Homo sapiens: one gene and its partner. The protein of the gene in region 1 interacts with the protein of each later gene in a pairwise test. Each region holds a gene or a part of one and is shown in the gene's direction. Other genes may lie near its edges. The genes, in order: SNCAIP and SH2D3C.

Region 1 (3,500 bases):
AACCTTAAGGAGGAGGCTGGAAAATATCAGTGACCCAGAGTAAATCTCCAGGCTAAAATCTATGGGTCAGAGACCAGATAAGGAATCCTTTTCCCCCTATCATCAGAGAGGATATTTAATAATTAATATTTATGAGGCACTCTGTTTTGAGTACTTAAAAGATGCCTTACAATTACTTTCTTATTTAGTTCTCACAGCAGCCCTAGGTAGGAGGCGTCACTGTTATCATCTTTTTTTTTTTTTTTTTTTTTTAACAGATGAGGAAACAAAGATTTAGAGATTTGAAGCAGTTTGTCTGCCACTAAGCTCCTTCCTCCTGGCGACTGCCAAGTGGCCAGACACTCACCTGAGTTGTTGAGGAGTAGAATAAAGCTTTGATTGGGCTCTTCCCATTCATCTGTTATTTTTTGTTGTTGTTGTTTTTATTCTAAGATGAGTAACCATCATCTTGAGAATAAAACATTATAGCTGCCTTCTTTGGTCATCAATCCTATAAAAAAAAAAACTATGGAAAAAGGTGTATTTAAAGAGGTAAGGGCTCCAGTACTATTGTTGAAATTAAGATCAGTTTCTTACTTATAAATTCCAGTCATCTTCCTGTGATACTGCTGCTGCCAGAAAATAAAAGCGTCTTATGGAAGGAAGTTGTACTGCTGCATATAAAATGCAGGCCTCTTGAGGAGGCACAGAAAAGCTTGGTTTTGAGAGTCATTCACAGAGCTATTCCATAGATAAATAGAAGGAGCTAAACACTTTGGAAGCCACAGAAACTCAATAGTTCTTAAACTGTTTTCAGTCTGAGAGTCTTAAGAGCATCATATGAAAGCTATGGATTCTTTCCTTGAAGAGAAAAGATGTCCACACATACCCCGCTTTGTATTTAATTTTAGGGATTTCAAGGATCCATTGAATCTCGTCTGTGGATTTCCTGGGACTCCTTGGACTCCAGGTTAAAAAATCTGTTTTAAAAGCTGATGCAGAAGGAAGATATTAGCCATTGTTGAATGTTTACTGTGTTTGACATGTAACCATTTATTCAGTGTTTACCGGATGCCAGCCCTTTTTGAAAGGTACATTATAGCTAAGCCATGCATTATGAGTCCAGTTTTAAGCCATGGAGGAGAACGAGGTTCAGAGAGGGAACTCACAGTCTCCCACTGGGAAAGTACTGAGAATAGAATTAAACACAGAACCCAGGTTTGTATCACCACTACTTCATGCTGCTTCCGCACTCATTCATGCAACCAAATGAAGCTTAAGACTTGTGCCACTGAAATTTGGATCCTCTGTTGGTCCTGACTTCCCTCAGCCTTCAGCTTCTCTTGTTAAAAGTAAGTTAAGTGGCTGCTTCTGCCACAAGAGCTTCCTGGAATGTGTCCAGTGCAAGAGCAGTCAAGGGCTGGGAAGGTCTCACCTCACTCTCCTCCTTCACCTGTGACAATGTTTTCACAGTGGGACAGATAACATCATTAGAGTGACAGCACTACTGGTTTGATCATCTCTAGGTAAGTTTCTACTTCTTACTCATTTCCGAGTACAGTTTGCACACTTGGAAACTTTAACTTAACAGATGCTCAACAGCAAAAATGACTGCAAATTCTCCATGTGACCCCTCTTCCACAGTATTTATTGAGGCCTGTATTCTGGGCTCTGTCCTCTAAGTTGCGGTCACAGCAGTGAGCAGACAGATGTGGGTCCTGAGCTCATGGTATTTATAGCTAGCTTATATCTAGCTAGGAAGGGGGCTAATAAATAATCGAAATAAAGCGTGGTAAGTGTTATGAAAAAGGAAGTATCAAGAATTTATTCTATTCAAGTTTCTTCATTCTTTTCAGCTTAAAAACTCTGATCACAAAACATTGTATGTTTCTCCAGCCCTTTCTTCCCCCAGGATGTTTAGAGTGCTTCAGGTTTCCGAAAACTTAGTTGACAGAGTCAGGGGGATATGCAGGCCAAGCAGTTAATCTCAGTCCCCGCTTTGCAGATGAGAAGGCAACAGTGACCAAATGACTTAACCACAGATGGAGTGAAGACAGGGGTAACTGCTTGGTCTGGTCCCCAGTAGAGCATTGCTCACTATAAACCACAAGCTGCTTCTAATTTATTTGAGATGTTATTATCGTGGCCTTTATATTCTGGTCTCTCTTGCTGCAAATGAGTCCGGCAGGCAAGCACAACTCAGAAAGCAAATTCACCTTCTTTGTAGCCCTTGATGGGTCGGTCCCCCTGTTGTCTCTTTCTCATTCCATAGGCATTTCCCCCACTCACCCTCTTGCCCTGAGACCGCCTCCCCAGATTTTCTCCTGAAGCATTGTCTTGTGACTGCACCAACCTACACTGGCAGATAGAAATGTAATAGGATCCATGAATGGGAGCCATGCAGGCAATTTCATATTTTATAGCAGGCGCGCTTAAAAAAGTAAAAGGGAACAGGTGACATCAATTTTAATAATATATCTTACCCAATATAGCCAAAATGGTAGCATTTCCATATGTAATCCATATAAAAAATCATTAACCAAGTACCTTACATTCTTTTTTTCCCATATTACATCTTTGAAATTTGGTGTATGTTTTTTACTTACCTCAATTCAGAATGGCCACATTCCAATGTGGCCACAGGTGGCTGGTGACCCCTGCAGTGGACTTCAGGCTTGGACTCTGAGGAGACCCTGGGATGCCTAAGACAGACTTAGTGACCACCTCCTCAGCCTCCCTCGACACTTAGCTCAGATCTTTATTGCTGCTCCAATAGAAGGTTCACAAGGTTGTTTTCTCAAACCTGGGTTCTTGAGGGAAGGGAATATGTCTTTGTCATCTTTCTATCTCTCATGTAGAGTGCAGTGTTTAGAAAGCCCACCATTGGCAGTGGGTACATGGTGAATCATTAATGAACAAAGGAGGGATAACTGTAACTCCAGGAGTTGAAGGGCTTGGTATATGGAGGCTTACCTGTCCAACCCCTGCTCCCTGGCTCTGTTCCCCCATCGCAGGGGCTCCTGTTTCAATCTCCCATCTTTGTCCAGTGCTGCAGAACCACATTGGAGTCAGATTGAATGGACAGGAGGCATCTCCAGTCACACATCTAGGCTTCTAACCTAGAATTGTATTGAGACTGTATACACCTTGTTTAGTTTTTGTTTCACCTCTTTTAATACCAAATACTAGAAGAACTTATAAGCAGTCTAGTATGTGAAATCATAAGTCTTATTCAACAACATGGAAAAAAAAAACAAAAAAACAGGACAGACCAAACACAAAAACAAAAACTCGTCCAGTGAACAAGCCTCCTGTTGAGATTGCAAACAAGGCCAACTGACATATATAGAACATTAAATATACAAGAGAAGAGTAGCCTGCATCAGGGAGCTGTTAGAGTCATCACGATGAACTTTCTGTTTCCAGTGGTTTTAGAGTCATCACTACTCCCTCTGAGAGAACTGGAGATTTATATCCTATGTCAATTTGCCTTTGCACATGCAGTATTTAAATTTTGCAAG
Region 2 (3,500 bases), on another chromosome or scaffold:
TCTTGAGCAGCTTTTTCCTGAGACACCAAGCACAGCCTCTGTCTCTGAGCTGTAATTGCCTAGACCCCTGATCAGTGAGGAGGACCATGTAAAGGGGTAGAGTGAATCCAGTCCAGATTCTGCCTCTTACTGGCTGCATGACTGGACAAATCTCTTCCTCTCTTGGAGCCTCAGTTTCTCATCTGATAAATGGACGTAACAATAGCATCTACCTGGTCGGGTTGTGGTGAGGATTCAAGAATAACATACCTGTAAAATCTCAACACAGTGGCTGGCATGCTGCACTCAGTAAATGGGAATGCTGTATTTACGATTAGTAGAACTCATGTTTTTCCACCATCCCCGGCTGCCTTCTGTCATCCCCTCCTACATTCGTCCTCATTCGGGAGTAAAGGACCAAGGATTGTATGTAGCTGAGAGGGCCTGATGATGGGTCCTGGGGCGTTCTAAGACACCCCAAGGTATGAGACTGCACCAGGAGCCTGGCCCCTCCCACCCAGGGAAGCCGAGTTTCGCGGGAGCGGGGCGGGGCGGGGTGGGGCGAGGCGAGGCGGAGTTGAGGGCGTGTCTAGGGGCGTGGCCTACCCCAGGCTGCGCGGAGAGCTGCTGGGGAAGCGAGCGTTGGAGCCGGGCGGGCGAGGCGGAGGGGTGTGCTAGGGGGCGAGGCCTTCCCGACACTGACTGATGGGGAGGGGGCGGAGCGAGACCGCAGGCGGAGGGCCGTGTTCGAGGCGGAGAGCGTCCTTCCCTGCCGGTGGAGTAGGCGGTGGAGTGGGGCCGGGCAAGGAGCGCAGGGGCGTGTCTGGGGGCGTGGTCTACAGGTCAGTCTCCGCCCCCGGAGTCCGGCACTGAGCTCTGCAGCTCAGTGGCCCGAGAAAGGCAGGAGCCGCTGGGTTTAGGAGGTCCCCGGGTTGCCGGCGGCGACAGCGGGGGAAGCATGACTGCTGTGGGCCGAAGGTGCCCCGCGCTGGGGTCCCGAGGGTGAGTGACCGAGCTGGGCCTGGGGAGGGCCAGCGGGGAGCAGGAGAGGTCGAAGGAGGAAATCTGCACCCCTGGGGCAGCTGACAAATTTGGGGGCGGGGTTAGCATCAGGGACTTTTCTAAGCCAGTTTTCTTTGGGTGTAACTTTGTCACCGCAGGTCAGGCATCTGCTTATCTACTCTACACAACAGCCCCAGGAGGGAGGTACTACTATCACCCCCATTTTATAGATGAGGAAAGAAAGATTTGCCTGCCGAGTTTGACACAGCCAGTGAGCGTCAGAACCAGGGTTTAAACCCAGCTTCCTGGCCCATGCTCTTAACACCTGGGCAGCACATTCCTCTCCAGCAGGGCCAGGGCCGCTGAGAAAGGTGGTCTTGAGAAACCTTGAGAATGGCAAGTCCAGGACCCAGCCCAAGCCTTCTTCCCCTGTGGACAGAGCCCTGGTGGGCCTAACAGTGCCTCTGGCATCATGCTTAGCCAGGAGCTGACCAAGGAAATGAAGAGACTCTTCTCCTCCAGCATCTGGAGTGTCCCGAGGAGGATGGGGTTAGCAGACCAGATTGAGCCCCCTTCTGGTGCCCCGGGACCCAGTGCTCCATCTGCCCTCCAGGGACTGTTGAACATTCCTTCCAGAAGTCCCTGAACCTCAACCCTGTGCCCTGGAGTCAGGGGAGCAGCCTGGCCCATGAGATCTCAGACTAGCCCTGCCCCATTCTGGTCCTTAGTCTCCCCAGTAGCCCAGATGGGCCTGAGATGGTCTCTGAGGATCCATTCAGTTTGGGGAGGACATTTGGGAAATGCCAGTGAGCAAGTTCGGGGGCCCTGTTCCTGAGTGTCTAGAGGAGGCCATCCCAGGCCTAAGCTGGGGAGACAGTGTCCCTCCCCCACCCCGGGGAGACAGGGTGCACCTGGAGCAGGAGGAAGGAAGGGGAAGAGGTGAGGCTGCAGGGGTTTCCTGGTGTCCTGTTCCCTGCTGAGATCATGGGGATGAAGAGGAAGGAGGGAGGAGGGACCTTTAGCTCCCCTGGCTAAAAAAGGAAAGCACCAGCCTAGCCTGCCCCCTACCTCCCAAGGACCTTCAGTCTTCTGCAGGTCCCAGAGAGGCACCCTCCCTCCTCAATCCATCCTACAGAGGAGGAAGCAGAGGCCTAGAGAGGGACAGGAAGCCCCAGCACTCCCTACCCCACGCCTACCCACACTGGAATTGTCAGGCGAGGGTCCCACCAGGCATGATCACCAGCTGACAACCAGCAAGCACCTGACAGGTGTTGTCTAGCTCAACACTAGACTGGGGTGTGAGGTGGGAGCCTCTACTTGCTCCATTTTGCCAGTGAGGAGACTGAGACTCAGAGAGGGGAAGGGACTCTCCTGGGGTCACAGAGAAATTGGGTGTCAGGCCTCACTATTTGATCCCAGGCCTGACTAAGCCCAAGCTCTAAACCACTAGGTCACATTTCCCCTCCTGCAAGTAAAAATCTCAAAGTTTTTCTTTTGTTTTTTCTTTATTTCTTTTTTTTTTTTTTTTCGAGATGGAGTTTTGCTCTTGTTGCCCAGGCTGGGGTGCAATGGTGTGATCTCGGCTGACCGCAACCTCCGCCTCCTGGGTTCAAGCAATTCTTCTGCCTCAGCCTCCCGAGTAGCTGGGATTACAGGCATGCGCCACCACGCCTGGCTAATTTTGTGTGTGTGTGTGTGTGTTTTTAGTAGAGCCGTAGTTTCTCCATGTTGGTCAGGCTGATCTCGAACTCCTGACCTCAGGTGATCTGCCCGCCTCAGCCTCCCAAAATGCTGGGATTACAGGCGTGAGCCACCGCACCCAGCCAGCTTTTTCTACCATTATTTCAAATGACTTCCCATGACTCTCTGGAAAGGAGCCCATTTTACAGATGAAGATGTTGAGATTTTTGTGAGGCTAATAACTTGCTTGAGTTGATGCAGTTAGTTGAATGGGAATGATATTCATTGTCATTTTGACTGAGGTACAGCTATGCCTCAGACACTGTTCTAGGTCCTGGGAGATAGCAGTGAGCATGGCAGACAAAACCCTGCCCTCATGGAGTCCCCATTCCAGGGCAGGGGAGACAGAAGATAGACAAGATAAATGAGTTCTGTGGTCGACTAGAAGAGAAAAGCCTTAACGAGAAAATTTAAAATCAGCTCTAGAATTGGTTGGCGAAAGTGGGGAGTGGCTGGTGGTGCCAATTTAAGAAGGTTAGCCAGAAAGAAAGGCTCAGTGAGGAAGTGGTGTTTGAACAAAGGAGACGAAGGGACAAACCCTCTTGCTGGCTGGGAAGGAGCATACCAGGCCAAGGGAACAGCGTGTATAAAGGCCCTGACGTGGCATGTTTGGGGAACAGTAGAGACCACTGTGGCCGGGGCAGAGCAAGGTGGGGAGGACAGGGAGGGGTGGGCTGGGAGGCTGGGATGGAAATGGGAGCAGATAACGTAGGGCCTGGAAGAGCCCAGCAAGGACCTGGCTTTGGCTCTGAGCAAAACGGGAGCCATTGCTGGCCTTG

What was found.
Region 2: the proteins of SNCAIP (region 1) and SH2D3C interact in a two-hybrid assay, tested with the Homo sapiens proteins (one large-scale study listed by BioGRID).

The regions. Positions count from the first base shown.
Region 1 is NC_000005.10:122,318,737-122,322,236, forward strand, and holds part of SNCAIP (synphilin-1), read left to right. Parts: intron 1-2,554; exon of another isoform or gene 2,555-3,098; intron 3,099-3,500. UniProt on the Homo sapiens protein: Isoform 2 inhibits the ubiquitin ligase activity of SIAH1 and inhibits proteasomal degradation of target proteins. Isoform 2 inhibits autoubiquitination and proteasomal degradation of SIAH1, and thereby increases cellular levels of SIAH.
Region 2 is NC_000009.12:127,768,667-127,772,166, reverse strand, and holds part of SH2D3C (SH2 domain-containing protein 3C), read left to right. Parts: intron 1-872; exon of another isoform or gene 873-937; coding exon of another isoform or gene 938-981; intron 982-3,500. UniProt on the Homo sapiens protein: Acts as an adapter protein that mediates cell signaling pathways involved in cellular functions such as cell adhesion and migration, tissue organization, and the regulation of the immune response.